Regions from separate parts of the Homo sapiens genome. Here regions 2, 3, 4 and 5 are each linked to region 1. The links come from fine-mapping of genetic effects on gene expression. A gene starts in region 1. Each other region holds a variant in brackets. All regions are shown on one strand. Distances are from middle to middle.

What was found. PIP is the estimated chance that this variant, and not a neighbour inherited with it, causes the effect.
Region 2: its variant is the best candidate, but not a certain one, in a credible set for the expression of EIF6 in whole blood (TOPMed, PIP 0.83).
Region 3: its variant is the best candidate, but not a certain one, in a credible set for the expression of EIF6 in whole blood (TOPMed, PIP 0.58).
Region 4: its variant is the best candidate, but not a certain one, in a credible set for the expression of EIF6 in whole blood (TOPMed, PIP 0.90).
Region 5: its variant is the best candidate, but not a certain one, in a credible set for the expression of EIF6 in whole blood (TOPMed, PIP 0.80).

Annotation. Positions count from the first base shown.
Region 1 is chr20:35,282,253-35,286,356 of GRCh38, reverse strand. It overlaps EIF6 (eukaryotic translation initiation factor 6), which reads left to right and starts at 1,585. Exons shown (of 7, transcript NM_002212.4): 1 at 1,585-1,631; 2 at 1,865-1,976; 3 at 2,096-2,181. The coding sequence starts at 1,870. FAM83C (family with sequence similarity 83 member C) reads left to right here. Exons shown (of 4, transcript NM_178468.6): 4 at 1-626. It overlaps FAM83C-AS1 (FAM83C antisense RNA 1), which reads right to left and starts at 1,106. Exons shown (of 2, transcript NR_109815.1): 1 at 1,042-1,106; 2 at 585-887. RefSeq lists an enhancer at 1,023-1,573 and a silencer at 1,666-1,855.
Region 2 is chr20:35,211,057-35,215,177 of GRCh38, reverse strand. All of the region lies in intron 4 of MMP24-AS1-EDEM2 (MMP24-AS1-EDEM2 readthrough), which reads left to right. It also overlaps a transcript of PROCR not described here. Among named protein-coding and RNA genes, the nearest start is that of MMP24, 14 kb to the left of the region's middle. The variant T/A (reference allele first, on the strand shown) is at 2,094.
Region 3 is chr20:35,937,782-35,941,902 of GRCh38, reverse strand. It overlaps PHF20 (PHD finger protein 20), which reads right to left. Exons shown (of 18, transcript NM_016436.5): 16 at 2,795-3,206; 17 at 856-1,039. Among named protein-coding and RNA genes, the nearest start is that of SCAND1, 15 kb to the left of the region's middle. The variant C/T (reference allele first, on the strand shown) is at 2,420.
Region 4 is chr20:35,203,416-35,207,536 of GRCh38, reverse strand. All of the region lies in intron 4 of MMP24-AS1-EDEM2 (MMP24-AS1-EDEM2 readthrough), which reads left to right. It also overlaps a transcript of PROCR not described here. Among named protein-coding and RNA genes, the nearest start is that of MMP24, 21 kb to the left of the region's middle. The variant G/A (reference allele first, on the strand shown) is at 2,340.
Region 5 is chr20:36,128,277-36,132,397 of GRCh38, reverse strand. It overlaps a transcript of EPB41L1 not described here. Among named protein-coding and RNA genes, the nearest start is that of EPB41L1, 24 kb to the left of the region's middle. RefSeq lists an enhancer at 2,910-3,411. The variant A/C (reference allele first, on the strand shown) is at 1,955.

The DNA of each region.
Region 1 (4,104 bases):
ACCCTAACTAGTATCTTCTTGAATCTAGGCTGTGTTTCCAGCCCTGTGCTGGGCCTGTAGAGCTGACAGGTGGGTCACACTCAGACCTGGGGACAGAGGTGAAATGCACAAGCTGCTGGAGAAGGGGTCAGAGCCATATCAAGTTAAAGGTTAACCAGTTACAGAGGGTGTTAGAAAACAAAGGGCAGAGAGTCCTGGAGAAGGTGGAGTAGTCAGAAAACTTTCTTAGAGGAGATGGAGGTGGCCTTTGAGCCAGGCCCTGAAGGATGGGGAGGTTTTGGACAGAGGGAGGAGAGAGTTAGAAAAATTTTTGGTAGAGAGAATCAGGTGAAAGAGATGCCCTAAAGAGGACTGAGTGGGTCTGAGGTGAATGAGTGAGGAAGAGCAGAGTATGTGGATACCCGGAAACACACACACACACACATCATCATTATCATCATCATCATTGTCGTCGTCATCATCTTGCTGAGTCATCATCATCATCATCATCATTGTCGTCGTCATCATCTTGCTGAGTGTCTCTTGAAGTACAGGCTGTGACAGGTTGTGGGCCATTTTCCTGAACTCACCACTTACCCGGGATAGTAAACATGATACACATCAATAAAGGCAGACTTTATTGTGAATCACAGCGCCTGGTGTATCCTGAACTTTGAGGAGTTATGGGAGGGACACGTTGGGGGAATGGGAAGGGCACCATTCAGGCCAATTATGGGGAAACCCCTGGAGGAGGGTGAATGCCGAAGGAGGAATTGGGGGAGTCCAGGGGCTCCAAGTTACCACTGTGACATTTTGAGAGAACCCGGGGCTTTTGCAGATTCTACAAAATGTGGGCCAAGTTCATCCTGTCCAAGTGTGCAGCAGGGCCCTTGGCCCCCATCACTATCCTGGGGACAGAAGTTGGCTGCTGAGTGAGTGATAGAGGCCGTGCGAGAGGCACATCGTGGAAGCCAACCAGCACCCACATCCTTGCCCACCCTGGACCCCTTTCCAGCCTTTTCCTGAGCCCCTGCTTCCTCAGTCCTCCCCTCTCTCCAGCACCTGCAGCCTGGCTGCCTTTCCGTCTCTGGCTGCGCTCTTTCTCCAGCCTCGGTCTGGCCGCACTTCTGCCTCCTGGAACTCTCTCCATGGGTAGCCTCTTCTAGTCCACCCGTCTTCAGCCCCTCATCTCATTCGTCAGCACTCCACTCCCCTGCTGGGCTCCAGACATGGACTTCTGTCCCTCAAGGCACAGCTGGACTCATCCCTTTCCCCAAACCTGCCCTTCCTCCGGCTTCATTTCCATCAATACCTCCATCATCAACCCTTCCGCGAGACACTCCTGGCCCCTCCTCTCCCTCATGCCTCACAACCGACCAGCCGGAGGTCTAGGTCGATGACAGCTCCTAAAAAGCTCCTGAATGAATAATGAATGAATGAACGCGAGCAGGCTAGGCGTGGGGCCAGGCGGGGTCGCGCCCAGACCGCTCGCGACCATAGAGTCCGCCGGAGGCCGGAGGTAGAGGGGCTGGATGCGTGGCGGGGAGCGCCGGGCTCTCCCGGAAGTCTCCCTGGACGGAAGTGGAAACGGAAACCTTTTTAGGGAGTCCAAGGTACAGTCGCCGCGTGCGGAGCTTGTTACTGGTTACTTGGTAAGCTGGTGTGAGGGGAACCTGGGAGGGTCAGCTCCGGTCCTGGGTCGGGAGGGGTGGGGGCCAGAGGATTCAGGGCCGGAGGTTCTGGTGGGGGCCCAGTGGGCGGGACCCGAGGACGGAGGGGCCGGGAGGCCGAGAGGGGCGGGGTCGCGGCGGGGCCTGAGGGACGGAGGCCGGGATACTTGGGAAAGGATCCGCCGGCCTTGAACTCCCGCCTCCGCCGCCCCTAGGCCTCATGGCGGTCCGAGCTTCGTTCGAGAACAACTGTGAGATCGGCTGCTTTGCCAAGCTCACCAACACCTACTGTCTGGTAGCGATCGGAGGCTCAGAGAACTTCTACAGGTGCGGCGGGAGCCCCGGGGCTTACGGTGGCGGGGAGGCGTGCGCAGGAGTCAAGAGCTCCGGCAGTGGGAGGGTGCCGGCCCCTCTGCCCCGCCACCACCGAGTCCATGTCCCTACAGTGTGTTCGAGGGCGAGCTCTCCGATACCATCCCCGTGGTGCACGCGTCTATCGCCGGCTGCCGCATCATCGGGCGCATGTGTGTGGGTAAGGCAGGTGGAGGACGCCGAGGGAGGGAGTGGTCTCCAAGCACCATTAATTACACCCCCGGAGGGAACCCGGAGTGACCTAGGGATTCCCAGGGTATCATCTGTTATCTCTGGGCACTATAGAATCTCTCAGGCCAAGCGTCAGGAGATCGGGGCAACCCTCTAGCAAAGGCTGCTGGATAATAGTAATAACAAATAATGTAAAGTGCTTTCACTCCTGTTCTCATTCCTTCGTCACAAAGACACTAGAAGGTAGGAGTTACTGGCCTAACTTGACTGATGAGGAAGTTGAGACTTGACCTAAGTGACTCAGTAAGTTCCACACCTAGTTCCTAGTGTTGGAGAAGGATTTTTCTCTTTTTTTTTTTTTTTTGAGGCCAGATTTTTGCTCTTTCGCCCAGGCTGGAGTGCAGTGGCAAGATCACAGCTGTCTGCATCCTCAACTTCTTAGGCTCAAGTGATCCTCCCACCTCAGCCTACCAGGTAGCTAGGGCCACAGGCACGTGCCACCACACCTGGCTAATTTTTACATTTTTGGTAGAGACGCGGCCTCCCTGTGTTGCCCAGCCTGGCCTTGATCTCCTGGGCTCAAGTGATCTTCTTACCTTGGTCTCTTAAAGTGTTGGGATTATAGGCGAGAGCCACTATACCCAGCCGAGGATTTGTATCTCATCTCTCCCTGCCACTGACTGGGCAAGGTGCTTTCTCTTTCTAAGCATCCATTTCTGTCTCTGTAAAGATTAGCTAAGATATGCGGTCTTCCTGCTCAGTTACGTTGGAATCTTAAATTCCCTTTACCACATCTCTACCCTACCTTCCTACCTGTCAGCACTGTTAATTCTGGTCGTTGGTCCTTTCCTTTTTATTATTATTATTATTTTTTTTTGAGATGGAGTTTTCGCTCTTGTTGCCCAGGCTGGAGTGCAATGGCACGATCTTGGCTCACTGCAACACTCTCTTCAAGTGATTCTCCTGCCTCAGCCTCCCAAGTAGCTGGGATTACAGGCGCATCCCGCCACACCCGGCTAATTTTTTTGTATTTTTAGTAGAGATGGAGTTTCACCATGTTGGCCAGGCTGGTCTTGAACTCCTGACCTCAGGTGATCCTCCCACCTCGGCCTCCCAAAGTGCTGGGATTACAGGCGTGAGCCACTGCGCCCGGCCGGTCCTTTCATTAAGCTGGATCTGTCTTCCATTACTGCTGCCCATTGTTTCTTAGTTCTGCTCATTGAGGTCACTTTTAGAAGTCTGTTTATTTTATTTTTTTACTTTTACTTTAATTTTTAAAAATCTTAAGCCTGCTTGGGAGGTCGAGGCAGGTGGATCACCTGAGGTCAGCAGTTCGAGACTAACCTGACCAACATGGAGAAACCCCGTCTCTACTAAAAATACAGAAATTAGCCGGGTGTGGTGGCGCATACCTATAATCCCAGCTACTTGGGAGGCTGAGGCGGGAGAATTGCTTGAACCCTGGAGGTGGAGCTCACCCTGCGGTGAGCTGAGATTGTGCCATTGCATTTCAGCCTGGGCAATAAGAGTGAAACTGTGTCTCAAAAAAAAACAAAAAACAAAAAACAACAACAACAAAAACTTAAGCCTAGTGACCTCAAAGTATTTTCCTATTCAGTTAAAATACTCTGATCTCTAACCATGCCCTTAGGACTTGAAGCAAGTTCTGACAACAAGGGAGATTTTAGCTTAGTCCTTGTGTATTTTATGATGGGAGTGACCTGGAATTCAGAAATTGATTGGCGTGTATTTGTAGATTGTTCATTCTTGTTGCTGTATGGTGTGTTTTGTGTAAGTATATCACAACGTATTCATCCATTCCATCGACAGTGCATTTGGGCAGTTTTCACTTTGGTCTGTTAGGAATAGTGCTGCTGGCCGGGCATGGTGGCTCACGCCTGTAATCCCAGCA
Region 2 (4,121 bases), 71 kb after region 1:
GCACCTTTGGGAGGCTGAGGCGGGTGGATCACTTGAGGTCAGGAGTTTGAGACCAGCCTGACCAACATGGGTGAAACCCCGTTTCTACTAAAAACACAAAAAAATTAGCCTGGCTTGGTGGCGCGTGCCTGTAATCCCAGCTACTCAGGAGGCCGAGGCAGGAGAATCTCTTGAACCCAGGAGACAGAGGTTGCAGTGAGCTGAGATGGTGCCACTGCACTTCAGCCTGGGCTACAGAGTGAGACTCCATCTCAAAAAAAAAAAAAAAAAGAAAAAGAAAATGGGAGGTAAAGGCCTGGAGGAAGGAAAAGGTCTGATTGTTCAGGATCTAGAGAAGGTCCCAGTCCAATCCCCCGACTCAGTCTCAATGTCCAGCCCCAAATGACTTGAGAGTATTTCTTACTCAGGTTTCTCCCTTAAAAGCATATTCAAACCAATGCATACAATGGGACACTATGCAGCCTTTTGTAATTTTTTTTTTTTTTTTTTGAGATGGAGTTTCGCTCTGTCGCCCAGGCTGGAGTGCAGTGGCGCGATCTCGGCTCACTGCAACCTCCACCTCCTGGGTTCAAGCAATTCTCCTGCCTCAGCCTCCCGAGTAGCTGGGATTACAGGCGCCCACCACCACGCCTAGCTAATTTTTTTGTATTTTTTTAGTAGAGGCAGGGTTTCACCGTGATAGCCAGGATGGTCTCGATCTCCTGACCTTGTGATCCACCCGCCTTGGACTCCCAAAGTGCTGGGATTACAGGCGTGAGCCACCGCGCCCGGCCCAATGCAGCCATTTTTTAAAATGAGGAAGTACTTACGAATTTATGAATAATTAGGACATTATTTCCAAAATGTAATGTTAAGTGGTAAAAAAAAGGCAAAGGTGCAGAATCCTGGATATTGTAGGCTACTATTTGTGTAATAATCGGAAAAAAGAATACATGTGTGTGCATGCACTTGCTCATTTACACATAAAATAGGGACAGATACCCAAGGAACTGATAATAGTGCTTACTTCCTGGAGGGAAGCTTAAGTGGTTTGAGGACAGGGTGGGAAGGCAATTTTTATTTTTATTTTTTAATTTTTTTTAATTATTTTATTTTATTTTTTTGAGATGGAGTCACGCTCTGTTACCCAGGCTGGAGTGCAGTGGCACAGTCTCGGCTCACCGAAACCTCTGCCTCCTGGGTTGGAGCAATTCTCTTGCCTCAGCCTCCGAAGTAGCTAGAACTACAGGCAAACACCACAAAGCCCAGCTATTTTTTATATTTTTAGTAGAGACAGTGTTTCACCATGTTGGGCAGGCTGGTCTCGAACTCCTGGCCTCATGTGATCCGCCTGCCTTGGCCTCCCAAAAGTGCTGGGATTACAGGTGGGAGCCACCATGCCTGGCTGGAAGGAGATTTTTCTCACTGTATACCTTTTTGTATCTTTTGACTTTTTAATCATGTGGATATATTATCTCTTCAAAAAATAAGTACAAGCTGAGCATTTTTTCCCTTTAATATTGTATGTTCTCCAAATGAACAAGCTGAGCTTCTAAAAAAATAAGTGTAATAGTCTCTAAAGGCCACTCCCTGAAAAGAGGGCTTATATTGCAAAATACTGGTATACAGTGAAAGCAGTAACAGTTCACTTAGGTTTCAAAAATTCAGGCCTTCATCTGCATGGCCAAAAAAAAAGCAGAAATAAAGCAACAAACTATAAACTAGGTAAAATATTTATTATTATTTTTTTAACGTAAAACAGCTGTTATAAACCAATAAGAAAAAGACCTATGACCCAATTCAATAATGGCGAAGGACTAAATGGGCTTCATGCAAACAGAAATATAAATGGACTCTTTTTTTTTTTTGAGACAGTCTCGCTCCGTTACCCAGGATGGAGTGCAGTGGCACGATCTTAACTCACTGCAACCTCTGCTTCCTTGGTTCAAGCGATTCTCATGTCTCAGCCTCCCAAGTAGCTGGGACTACAGGCACATGCCACCATACCTGACTAATTTTTTTGTGTTTTTTGTAGAGACGCGGTTTTGCCGTGTTGGCCAGGCTGATCTGGAACTCTTGGCCTCAAGTGATCCATCTGCCTCGGCCTCCCAAAG[T/A]GCTGGGATTATGGGCGTGAGCCACTGTGCCTGGCCTGAACAGACTCCTATAATAATTTTTTAAATGACCAACCATGTTTGTAATTAAAGAAAGGCAAATTAAGACAATCAGCCACTGCTTTCTTAACATTATCAGACTGCAAATACCAAAAGGTTGGATACTACAGAGTGTTAAAGAGGGCATGATAAAACAGATACTCCTCCATACTGTTGGAAGAGATACAAATTGGTTTACTCTCTTCAGGTCACCAACTGGCAATGCCTATCAACCTTGAAAATGAGCATACCTTTGACCCATCAATTCTAATTCTGAGAATTTATCCTAGATAGATATCCTTGCATAGGTGCAAACACAAAATTATTTGTAGCAAATTATTCAATTGCCTCATTCTTTGTAATTACAAAACACCAAAATCAACCTAAGTACTTTCCAGTTGGGGAAATTGCTACATCTAAACTGAGGAATACACTGGGAAGAAGTTGAAAATGGTGTGGCTGTGTATTACTGTTACGACAAGACCTTGATTTAGCCCCTTCATTATCTCTTACTTGGACCGCAGTAATAACTTCCCAGCAGGTCTCCCTGCCTTCATCTTGCCCTCTTGCAGGACCTGCTACGTAATTTGCAGGGCCCAGTGCAAAAATGAAAATGCAAGTCTCCTTGTTAAAAAAAAAATAAGAATTTCAAAATGATGACAGCAGAACATTAAAACAAGCGTGAGGGCCCTTCTAAGAGGGGGGCCCTGTGTGACTACAGAGGTCACAAGTCCATGAAGCAGGTCTTGCCCCTTGAGTGTCACTTGGACACTGGCTGCCCATGTGACATGCTGCATCCTCTGCCTGGAACATCCTTCCACTGCCATCTCTTTTTCTCTATGATGTACTACACGCCTGCCAATAAATAACTCTAATGTGACCTCCTTTGGGAAGTTTTCCCAAAGTCTTAAAAAGTTCTTACTCAAAGTCTTACAAAGTTCTTACTCAAATCACTCTTTCTTCAGTACTCCCCTAGCTCTTGCACATAGTTTTATTAACTCTTTATCACAGTGTTTGTTTTTTTTTTTCTTGAGACAGAGTTTCACTCTTGTAACCCAGGCTGGAGTGCAGTGGCATGATCTTGGCTCACTACAACCTCTGCCTCCTAGGTTCAAGCAATTCTCCTGCTCTCAGTCTCCCAAGTAGCTGGGATTACAGTTGTGAGCCACCACACCCAGCTAATTTTTTTATATTTTTAGTAGAGATGGTGTTTCACCATGTTGGCCAGGCTGGTCTCAAACTCCTGATCTCGGGTGATCCTCCTGCCTCAGCCTTCCAAAGTGCTGATATTACAGGCGTGAGCCACCACGCCCAGCCGATCACAGTGTTTTTATAATTATTTCTTTAAAAGTTTCTCTCCTAGAGTTTCTGCAGGACTTGGCCTATGGATTGTGCTTTGTTTGTTTTTTGGGTAACTCTGGCACCTCATACATTACCTAGCACATGGGAGTTGAGAGAATGAATCAGCTGGAGTGGATGTATTTGGATGGGTGTGTTAAAAAATCAGCCATATATTGCTTCACAGTTACACCTCATCTTCAGGTTGTTAAATCTGACTGGACTCTTAATTTAATAGAGGCCAGCAGGTCCTGATGACTGGTTCTTCATTCCAGGAGCCATAGAATAGTATCAGACAGTCCCTTGAAGGGGTGGGAGGTACCTGGACCTGAAAATTTTGGAGGCTCCCGCAAGCCATTTACACCTATCTCTGAATCTCCTTATACCTTTCACGCTTTTAAAATGGAGGTGCAATCTCATTAGGGCCCACTGGCCCCATCAATCAGTGCCAGGTTCCAGGAACCCAGTAGTTTCAGATTGCCCCCAGTCCTTTGCAACACTGGTTTTCAAATGGGGTATGCAATAGCCGTAAAGTAAATGAAGGCTTGGTAAGCGGTACTCATGCATGGATATATTTAAGGAAATTCATTTCCAGATCCTCAACTTCCAGATGTACTCCACCTGAGAAAGTTCCTGGGGTTGAGGCTCCAAGCC
Region 3 (4,121 bases), 660 kb before region 1:
CAACTTCAGTCTCAGGAGTTTTAGGAAGCCCTCCTATTAGCACTCTCCTCCTCTGCATTGACATCAGCCACATGTGTCCCGGCCACACCTCATGGCATCACTTGTATAACAGATGGCATTTTCTCCTGAGTTATTTCATGTATGTTTTATATTCCCAGTTACAGTAAAAAATCATAGCCAGACTGTACCCAGAATCCTCAAACAACATTTCTTTTTTAACTGGGCTCCATTTTCAACATGAAAACAAATAATTAGGGAATATTTCAACAACCAAAACCGTCAACTTCCTGGAGAGAGACTGAACTTGATCATGTTCATCATCACCGGTTTGATCCTCCAGGCCTGTCCGTAACCACCAATATCTGGAAGGAATACTCAGGGCTATACAAATGACTCAGGCAAATTCTCAAATCTCTACTGGCTTACGAGGAGAAAGCTTCATTTTAGATTTTATCAAAGATTGGAATAAGAGGTTTTTCAGATTAAATCCTCAGATATCCTAAAACTCAAGTCAAAATTTTAATTTCTCACAGAACTTGTTTGTAAAGATTGGCTTAGATCACATATTTCCTGCAAGCAGGACTGCCAGTTGCCCTCTCTCTGCATACTCAACTTTACAGAAGGGATCAGACAAGTGAGGCAGGACCCAACATCATGCAGATCTTGCACCTGATAAATACTAAAAGTAAGGCTCATCCATCCTGAGGGGAGAATGGAGGTGGGGAGAGGCTGAAAAGAAGAGAAGCAAAGAGTACAGCGGTCCCTGTAAACTCAGACTGGGGGGTTCAGAAAGCAGCTCGTCTGGGGGTGCTCGACTGCATGCCAATGCACAGGGGGCCAATGAAGGAGCCCTACCATCCAACTCCTTCTCAATGGAGTCCATCCTGTGCGTAACTTCATCCTGAAGAGATTCCACATGGGTCAGCAGGTTAAACTGCCACTGGTGCTGGGAGCTCAGCAGCCCCTCTCCACCTCTGTCCAGCAGCTTCCGAGCAGGGGCTTCTTCTGGTAGGGCCTTTTTGGAGACATATTCCTTCACCTGGGGATGCAATGGCATGGAAATTACTGAATGGAGATAGCCCCTGGCCCATTTTTCAACCAGCCAGCATTTCCAGCCACCTGAAATACTAGCTGCAGTTTCAATACTCCAAATCCCTACCTCCCTTTCCTATTTCCCACTTAGGAACTGGGCAGGAGCTTGCCCACTGTACCAATTCCAACTACCTCAGGGTAGCACTCTAGCTCAGGGGACCCACAGCTGCTTCCTACTGACTGGGCCAATGTCCTAGCCTAAAGTAAGCCTCACAGAATGGCTTCCAGAGCCCTGAGAGGTGATTAGAGCAGGGCTAGTGCAGACAAGGGTTAGTACACGGGAGTCACACCAACGCGTTTCAAGTCTCAGCTCCATCTCCTGCGAATGTGCGAGTCTGGATGGACTACTTCATGTCTCTGAGCCTCTGCTTTCTCGGTGGGAGGATGGGGGTACTAAAACCTATTTGGAAGGTTCATGAGGATGAAATAGGGTAAGGCACATAAAAGCAAGGCCAGCTTACAGTCAGCTTACCATCAATGGAAAAGACTGTTAGCCCTGGTTGCTTTGCTGAGGCCCAGTATTTCCTGGCTTTGTTTTATGTGCCAGATACCTCTAGGAAACCTGCCTGATCCACAGGACCACAAACCTTTTCTAGGATTTGGTAACTCAACCTTTCATTCATCCATTTGAAATGAAATAGATTCTAGCCAATATTTATTTAGTACTTACTATGTGCAAAACTGAGGGATTTTACTGAGGGATTTTCACAAATATGTTCCACAGTAACTGAGGGGGCTTCACTGGCCCCATTCTACAGGCGAGAAAACAGGTCTGATCAGGAAAGTGAAGTAACCCGCTCAGAATCACACAGTAAGGGGCTGAGCTCAGAATTGAAACTGCGTCTGTCTCAAAAGACTGTGTTCTTACCACCTTGCCCAACACCGTTTAGACATAGTCAAGGGCACAAGGATGCATGAGATACAATCCCCTCCCTTGAGGGGCTTGTAATCTAGGATCCCCTTGGCACCATGCAGCAATGTATTTAACACTGGTGACACCAACCTGCAGGAGAAAGTCTGGGAAGTAAGGATGATGAGACAGAGAAACTCTCAAATCATACAAAGCCTCACTGACAACTGAGGACAGGGCACAATGAGCCTAGTGAGCAGTTAGAGATGAAAACACCGGCAACGAGGTGATACAAGGGGGTTCTAGAAGAGAATGACTTGAATAACAAAAAACCAAAAGTGGCTCTTGGGAAAACTGATGAAACCAGCAATATTTTGACAAAGTGTACCATTTTTACCACAGGGCTTCAAAGTTAAAAGTCAAAATAAAGCTATCATACAACTGGATTGAAAAAATTCTGCCTAACAAAACATTTGA[C/T]TCATTGTTTGCTCATGCTAAGAATTAACATCTAGGTGCAATTATAATGCAAACTGCCTTAAAGAAAAGATGAGTTTTGCTAATCCATATCTCCTTGCTACTTCCCACCTCTCCCTCCCTCTGCACCCGCGCCCCCCACCCCACGTGCCACACTTGACTATGCCATTTTGTGGGTGCTTCCTGGAACCAAGGATCTTTGGCTTAAGTGGGCTCTCCTGACTTTGCACCCATTTTGGCAAACCAAAACATATCTATGGTAAGCAAATTTAAATACAGTTTTATTAATAAATATCTTCCATAGAGCATTCAAACTAGGAGGATAACTTGCAAGCATTCACGCAATGAATGAAGAACAAGTACAAGGCAGCCACATACCTTTGGGGAGCCGGGTTTGGGGTCACTGTCCCCCTTGCTCCTGTCTTGGTCTAGAGGCCAGCCCAGGCGCGGGGAAAGGGAATCATCGCCGTTCTCATGGAGGGGGTTGACCGCATCGTCGAGGGCAGAGCCCCTCGTCTCCACCACCAGCTTCTGCTCCACGGCAGGGTAATAGGCGCGGGGCTTCTGGTAGCAATGCTCACTGGTGATATAGGATTCCTCCACAGAACGCGGCAGGGGCAGGGCCAGGGGCCTGGGCTTCTCCACTGCCCCGTTCAAAGTTCTATAGCTTGGAGCTTCCTCCTTGCTCCTGGTGTCAGTGACAGGGATGTTTCTGAAATGAGATCTCCCCTCCCCTGAGTGCTGTTTCCAAGGCTGGCACCACAGCGGCAGATCAGGATGCTCCCGGCTTCTGTTGAGAGGACAAAGAGGACATGGGCTTTGGAGTAACTGGCACCATTGCAGGGGTTCTCAATTCCTAAATACTCTCCCAGTAGGGACAGCAGCTCCACCTGGGCCATCTGACCACACACTACCATTTGCTAAACAAGAGCGAATGTGAATCCGTGGTCTCCTAGGAGACCACTCCTTAGTGAGCTCCCACTGTGGTCACACACAGTGAGTGGGACTGGACTCTCAGTCAGAAGACCTGACTGGATTTCAACTCTGGGACAACTCACTCAACCAGCATCATTCCTACTTCCTCCTCTGTGAAACTGGGCTAATTATCTGTCTGATCTGTCTGCTATTGTAAACCAAAAATAAAATTCTAAGCCCCTCAACCAACCTGAATGGACCCCTCCTCTTGGCCAAGAGCATTCCAACATTAAACTGAAACACTAGTTCAGGCCATGATGGGAAGGGAGTCAGACAAGCCACATTATACCCTTCTCCCTTTGGAATTCATGCACAACTGACCAGCATTAACATTAAAACGGGCCGGGGGCGGTGGCTCACACCTGTAATCCCAGCACTTTGGGAGGCCGAGGCAGGAGGATCACGAGGTCAGGAGATCGAGACCATCCTGGCTAACACGGTGAAACCCCGCCTCTACTAAAATACAAAAAAAATTAGCTGGACGTGGTGGCGGGTGCCTGTTGTCCCAGCTACTTGGGAGGCTGAGGCAGGAGAATGCCGTGAACCCAGGAGGCAGAGCTTGCAGTGAGCCAAGATTGCGCCACTGCACTCCAGCCTGGGCGACAGCAAGACTCCGTCTCAAAAAACAAAACAAAACAAAACAACAACAACAACAAAACATTAAAATAGAGACCCTCAGACTGACAAAACAGACTGTAGCAATTAAGATACCAACATAACAGATAGCAGG
Region 4 (4,121 bases), 79 kb after region 1:
AAAACAAAACAGTCCTAACTAATTTCAGGCTCAAGAAAGAATAATTGTACAAATACAAAATCTGTGAGATATGACTTGATAGTAATATGAGGGGAAAAAGCTTTTAAAAATATTCATATGTGTATATATATATATATATATATACACAAACATACACATAATAGATTTGCATACATATAATTTAATTGTAATTTACATTCAGTAAAATTTACATTTTGGTGTAGAGTTCTGTGAGTTTTGACAAATGCAAAGAATTATGTAAACACCACCACACACAAACAAAAAAATAAAACAGTTAATCACCTTCCCAAATTCCCTTTTGTTACCCCTTTGTAGTCAAAGCCTTCCCTACCCTTAAGCCCTGGCAACACTGATATGTTCTCTATTCCTATAGTTTTTTCTTTTCCAGACTGTCATATAAAATGGAACCATACAATATGTTGTATTTTGAATTTGGCTTCTTTCACTTGGCATAATGGATTTAAGATTCATCCATGTTGTTGAGTGTATCAGTAGTCAATTCCTTTTCATTGCTGAGTAGTAGTGTATTGTATGGATGTACCACAGTTTGTTACTCCACTTCCCAGTTGAGGAATATTTAGGTTGTTTCTAGTTTTGGCAATTATGAATAAAGCTTCTGTAAACATTCACGTACAGGTTTTGGTATGAACATAAATTTTCATTTTACTTGGGCTAATTTCTAGGAGGGATTGTTGGAGCCTATGGTAAGTGTGTGTTTAACTTTATAAGAAACCTAGAGGGGCTGTATCATTTTGTTTTCCCACCAGTAATTTATGAGAGTGGCAGTTGTTCCGCCTTCTCACCAACAATTGGTATTGTCAGGGATTTTTTTCAATTTCAATAGGTGTATAGACATACCTTACTGTGGTTTTAATTTGCAATTCCCTACCAACAAATGATGTTGAGCATATTTTCAAATATTTATTTGCCATCCATGTATCTTCTCTGGTGAGGTGCCTGTTCAAAACTTTTGCCTTTTTAAAAAATTGTTTGTTTTCTTATTTCTGAGTTTTGAGAGTTTTTTTTTTTTTTTTTTTTTTTGAGATAGAGTCTCACACTGTTGCCCAGGCTGGACTGCAGTGACGCCATCTTGGCTTACTGCAACCTCTGCCTCCCGGGTTCAAGTGATTGTCCTGCCTCATTCTCCTGAGTAGCTGGGATTACAGGTGCCTGCCACCATGCCTGGCTAATTTTTTTGTATTTTTAGTAGAGACGAGGTTTCACTATGTTGGCCAGGCTGGTCTTGAACTCCTGACCTCGTGATCCGCCTGCCTCAGCCTCCCAAAGTGCTGGGATTACAGGCATGAGGCACTGCGCCCTACTGAGGGTTCTTTATAAATTCTAGGCCAGGCACAGTGGCTCATGCCTGTAGTCCTAGTGCTTTGGGAGGCTGAGCAGGAGGATCACTTGAGGTCAGAAGTTTGAGACCAGCCTGGGCAACATACAAAAATCCTGTCTCTACCAAAAATAAAATAAAATAAAATTTTTTAAAAATGTTAAAAAATAAATTCTGGATTCAAGTCCTTTGTTAGAAATGTGATTTGCGGTCAAGTGCAGTGGCTCACACCTGTAATCCCAGCACTTTGGGAGGCCGAGGTTGGGGGGGGGATCACCGGAGGTCATACACATATATACATATATACATGTATACATATGTATATGTATACATGTATATATGTATATGTAGATATATGTATATATGTACATATATATGTGTGTATATATACATATATATATATATATATATATATATATATATATATTTAGACAGAGTTTTGTCCTTGTTGCCCAGGCTGGAGTGCAATGGCATGATCTTGGCTCACTGCAACCTCCACCTCCCAGGTTCAAGCAATTCTCCTGCCTCAGCCTCCCGAGTAGCTGGGATTACAAGCATGCACCACCACACCCGGCTAATTTTGTATTTTTAGTGGAGACGAGGTTTCTCCACGTTGGTAAGGCTGGTCTTGAACTCTGGACCTCAGGTGATCCGCCTGCCTCGGCCTCCCAAAGTGCTGGGATTATAGGTGTGAGCCACTGCGCCCGGCCAATATATATATATATTTTTGGATTAACGAAGTTTCCTTCTCTAGTTTGCTGAGAGATTTTTTTTTTTTTATCATGAATGGGTTTTAAATTTTGTTAATGCATTTTCTTCATCAGTTAGGATTATCATGTGTTTTTTTCTTCCTTAGTCTGCCAATATGGTGAATTATGCTCATTTATTTATTATTATTATTATTATTGAGATGGAGTCTTGCTCTGTCCCCCAAGCTGGAGTACAGTGGTGCGATCTCAGCTCACTGCAACTTCCACCTCCC[G/A]GGTTCAAGCAATTCTCCTGCCTCAGCCTCCCAAGTAGCTGGGACTACTAGTGCACACCACCATACCCAGCTAATTTTTGTATTTTTAGTAGAGACGGGGTTTCACCACGTTGGCCAGGCTGGTCTCAAACTCTTGACCTCAGGTGATCTGCCCGCTTCACCCTCCCAAAGTGCTGGGATTACAGGCGTGAGCCACCATGCCTGGCTATTTTTGAATGTTACACCAGCATTAAATTACCTGGGATAAACTCCACATAGTAGTGAAGTATTATTTTTTAAAAATATATATATATTTCTGGATTCCTTTGCTAATAGTTTGTAGTTTGTTGAAGTTTTGGGGTATATGTTCATGTGAAGTATTGTTCTATAGTTTTCTTGTTATCTTTTTCAAATTTTGGCATCAGGACCATGCTGCCTTCATAAAATGAGCTAAGTTTTTTTGATTTTCTGGAAGAGTTTGTGTGGAATTGATACTATTTCTTTCTTTAACATTTGGTAGAATTTCCCAGTGAAACCATTTGGGGGCCAGGCATGGTGGCGCATGCCTGTAATCCCAGCACTTTGGGAAGCTAAGGCAGGCAGATTGCTTGAGCCAGGAGTTCGAGACCAGCCTGGGCAACATGATGAAAACCCATCTCTACTAAAAATACAAAAAAATTTGCTGGGTGTGGAAGTCTTGGCTGCAGTGAGCTGTGATTGCACCACTGTACTCCAGCCTGAATAACAGGAGTGAGTCCCTGCCACAAAGAAAAGAAAGAAAAGGAAAGAAAAGAAAAGAGAAAAGGAAAGAAAAGAGAGAAGGAAGGAAGGAAGGAGGGAGGGAGGGAGGGAAGGAGGGAGGGAGGGAGGAAGGAAGGAAAAGAAAAGAAACCTTCTGGGCCTGGAGTTTTCTTCTCTACATTGGAAGGTTTTAAACTATGAATTAAATTTTCTTTAGTACATTTAGGACTATTTCTCTGATCTGTTTCTTCTGGACTGAGTTTAGGTAATTTGTGTCTTTCAAGAAATTGGTCCATTTCCTCTAAGTTGTCAAACTTATGAGCATAGAGTTGTTTGTAATATTCTCTTATTATCCTTTTAATATCTGGAGGGTCTGAAGTGACATCCCCTCTTTCATTCCTGATATTAGTAATTTATGTCTTCTCTCTTTCTTTTCCTTGGTAAATCTGTCAAAAAGTTTATGAATTCTGTACACCTTTTCAAAGCTTTTGGTTTTATTGATTGTTCTCTATTTTTTTCTGTTTTCAATTTCATTGAATTCTGCTTTTCTAATTTCTTTTTCTTCTGCTTGATTTAGGTTTAATTTGTTCTTTCTCTAGTTTCTTAAGGTAGAAGCTTAGAGTATGATTTGAGGCCTTTCTTTTTTCTATCATAGGCATGTAAAGCTATAAATGTTCCTGTACACGCTGCATTAGCTGCAACCCATAAATTTTGATATGTTTTGTTTTGATGTTCAGTCAGTTCAAATATTTTCTGATTTACTTTAAGATTTTTTCTCTGACCCATGGATTATTTAGAAGTATATTAACAATTTCTAAATATTTGAGAGTTCTCTTTTTTTTCTTTTTTTTCTTTTTTTTTGAGACAGAGTCTTGTTCTGTTACCCAGGCTGGAGTGCAGTGGTGCGATCTCAGCTCACTGCAACCTCCACCTCCTGGATTCAAGCAATTCTCCTGCCTCAGCCTCCTGAATAGCTGAGATTACAGGCGCGCACTATCACGCCCAAGAGTTCGTCTAAAAAGAAAAACAATAATAAATAAAAGTTATGTTTATACTATATTA
Region 5 (4,121 bases), 850 kb before region 1:
GGATTTGGGGGAATCGGAGGAGATATGATGACGGAGGCAGAGGTGGGAGGGACCCAGCTACTAGAAGGGGCCATGAACCAAGGCATGTGGGTGGCCTGGAGAGCTGGAAAAGGCCAGGTGAGGATCCTCCCCTAGCAGCTCTGCCAACACCCTGACTTCGGCCCCATAAGGTCCATTTTCAGATTTTGACCTCTAGAAGTCTAGGGTCATCCATTTGTGTTGTTTTAAGTATATGGTCATTTGTTAGGGCAGCATTAGGAAACTGACACAGTCACCTAGGGAGGGGTCCTCAGAACTCACCTTTCCCTCCAGACTGAAACGCCCTCCTCAAGGGCTAGCCAGGGAGATTCCTTGGGGCCAGATGTCCCCTGGATATACCTCTGGGGAACAGGCCTGAGCTGGGGCCCCAAGCTCTAACCTAGAGAGATAACTTTGTGGGGGAAAGCACCCCAGAAAGAAGGTGACGGCTCTGGGAGGAAAGGGAGAGACCCCACCTTATAGATCCATCCAGGCCCTCCACCCCTCCCACATATTCTTGAACAGAGGGCCACCTACGCCATAAACCACACCATCCACAGCAGTAGCCTGGCATCAGGGAAAGAGAGCACTGGAGGCAGGAAGCCTGATTCTGGCCTCAGCTCTGCCCCTGCATCACTAGGTGGTGAGAGATCAGCCCCTTCCTCTCTCTAGGCCTGACCATTGTCATCCTGGCTTACCGTAGTATTTCAAGTGTCTTCCATGCTTTCATGCACAGAAAGCCTCACAGGGACCCTGTGAGGTAGCTCCCTGTCATGATGTTCACTTTACAGCTGAGGAAGTGGACACAAGGTGGTTAAGAGGGGAGGCTGGTTTGAACCCAGGCAGCCTGACACCACAGCCCTATTCTGCCTCCCGCCTTAGGATGAATGAATGCATGGACAGAGGACAGTTGGGAGCAGTCCCTACACACAAGGAACAGGCTCTTCAGACCTAAGAGAAATAAAAAACAGGCTGGGTGTGGTGGCTCACACCTGTAATCTCAGCACTTTGGGAGGCCAAGGTGGGTGGATCACCTGACGTCAGGAATTTGAGACTAGCCTGGCCAACATGGTGAAACCCCATCTTTACTAAAAATACAAAAATTAGCCAGGCGCGGTGGCTCATGCCTGAAATCCCAGCACTTTGGGAGGCCGAGGCGGGCGGATCACCAGAGGCCAGGAGTTCAAGACCAGCCTGACCAACATAGAGAAACCCCATCTCTACTAAAAATACAAAATTAGCTGGGCGTGGTGGCACATGCCTGTAACCCCAGCTACTCGGGAGGCTGAGGCAGGAGAATCACTTGAACCCAGGAGGCAGAGGCTGCAGTGAGCCAAGATTGAGCCATTGCACTCCAGCCTGGGCAACAAGAGCAAAATTCTGTCTCAAAAAAAAAAAAAAAAATTAGCCGGGTGTGGTGGCGGGCTCCTGTAATCCCAGCTACTCAGGAGGCTGAGACAGGAGAATCCCTTGAACCCAGAGGCAGAGGTTACAGTGAGCCGAGATCATGCCACTGTACTCCAGCCTGGGCAACAAGAGCAAAACTCTGTCTCGGGGAAAAAAAGAGAGAGAGAGAGAGAGAGAGAGAGAGAAATTTTTAAAAATCAAATAGAGAGAGAGAGAAAAATAAAAAACAGTTCCTGCCATTCACCCTGGATGCTGGGGGTTAAAGGTTGGCATAGCAGTTTGGCAAGTTTACTGAGAGCCTCTAAGGCAGCCACAGCCTTTTACCCAGCATTCTCTTCCTGGGTCTTCACCCCAAGAGACATCATCATCTGAAATACAGGAAGAACATTTTATGCAATGTTCATTGCACTGTTATTCATAATAGCAAAAACTAGAAACAGCCGGAATATCCATGAGCAGGAAAAGGGATGAGTTGATCGTGTATTTAATAGAATCCTCAGTAACGACACGGAAGGCAGCTTCCGATACA[A/C]CATTAAGAGAAAAATGCAGGACAGTACTGATGATGCGGTAGAAATTATGACTGTGCAAGAAAGAGCAAAGGAAAACTGGTGAAAGGAAACACTCCAAGCTCCCAATCATATTCAGGAGTAATTTTTTTCTGCTTCCTGTTTTCCCAAATCTTGGTACTATGTTATTATGGTTTTAATTAAAAAAAACAAAAAAAAAAACACTGCTGGGCAAGGTGGCTCATGCCTGTAATCCCAGCATTTTCGAAGGCCAAGGCGAGCAGATCACTTGAGGTCAGGAGTTCGAAATCAGCCTGGCCAATATGGAGAAATACCGTCTCTACTAAAAATAGAAAAATTAATTGGGCATGGTGGCGGGTGCCTGTAATCCCAGCTACTTGGGAGGCTGAGGCATGAGAATCACTTGAACCTGGGGGGCGGAGGTTGCAGTAAGCTGAGATCACGCCACTGCACTCCAGGCTGAGTGACAGAGCAAGACTCCGTCTCAAAAAAAAAAAACAAAAAAAAAAAACAAACCTGCCGGGTGCAGTGGCACACTCTGTAATCCCGGCTACTCTGGAGGCTGAAGTAGGAGGATCCCTTGAGTCAAAGAGTTTGAGGCTGTGATTGCACCTGTGAGTTGCCACTGCACTCCAGCCTGGCCAACATAATGAGCTCTCATTTGTAATTTTTAAAATAAATGAATAAATTGAATTTTTAAAATTAAAAAACGGTATTATTTTAAAAACGACAATAACTGCAATGCAGCCCTGAGGAACCCACACACTGAACAGTTAAGGAGAGGAGCAGCAACAGGCAAATGAGGGCAGGCCAGAGTGAGAAAGCCAGAAAGTGGGGTGTGCTGTCCCAGAGACCAAGGAGAGGGAGTGCTTCGGGAGCAGTGAGCCTGGGGTCAGGGTGGCCTGGGACCCGCTAGTGACCCAATGCTTGCCCTTATGCCTCCCAACTGCATTCATAATGCAAACCAGGTGCCAAGAATGATCTAACAATCGGCCCTCACACATTCCCCAGGAAGGCGTCTGAAAAAGTGCCCCCACCATGACCAGTGGCTCCAGGAGCAGTATTTACAATGCAAACCAGGCTCCCCCCAGGAGAAGCGGTAACTTACCACACCCGTGGCCATTCACCCCGCAGTCCAGCCCAAGCAAAACAGAAGAGGCCTCACGTACAAGAGCCTGGTCAGAATTTTCTGGTGTCTTCAGAATAGGACTCTTGGTCCATACCATTCACCAATTCTACCACCTGTGTTTCCACAGGGACTCGCAAACCAAACCACTCCCAGGACCCACCCCTCACCCCCACCCATGCTGGCTTCTTAGGCCCATCCCTCAGCCTCTTTGAGACATGTCCCTTAGATTCTGTGCCTCCTCCATGTAAGCTACACAAGCTTGCCCAGAGAGTCACATCTCATTGGCACAAATTCACCCACCCACACACCCACCAGCCTTTTTTCTTCTGAGAATGCCCCTTCCTCCCTCTCTCCACCCACCTCATCCAGGACCCCAGGCAAACCTCAGCAAAGGAGGGAAGGTCCCCCAGCAACTCATGCCTGACTTCAACATCCCATCCCTGCCTCCCACCACACCTGTGACAGACAGTGGCCAGGTCTGGCTGCTGCCTCTAGACCCCAGAGGTGGAGAGAGGCTAGGTCACAAAGCTAAAAACTAAACCAGGCTCTGAAGGCCAACTAAGAAGTCCTCTCTGACCCTCAACCTGGTGAGTCGACAAGAAGCAGGGCTGAGTCACTACCAGATGCAACCCCATCACCCCATGCTAAGAAATTGACATTGCTTACAGCCCAAATGCACGGGTCATCCTCCTGGGCAGCCTGTGGTAATGAGTGTCACGGGGCCAAGGCAGGGCCAGTACCAATTAAGGCTGCTCCCTTTCCTGCCAGTGAGCTCAGTCTCATTACTTTGCTCCATTTTCAGCTCATCTGAAAAATCCTCATTTGAGGTCCCTGGAGGATCTTAAAAGTGTTATTTAAACATTAGCTCTGACACACAGCCTCCCCCATCCACCCAAGGCCAATACTTTTTTCTCCCTGCTTTTTGGCACTGCCAGGAATGAGCAGCATCTAAGGCCCGGCCTGGGGCACCTCAGGTCTTGCAGCCTAGGGCCCCTCCTCAGTCTGAACTTTCCCCATCTCCCTGCCTTGTTTAGAAGAGA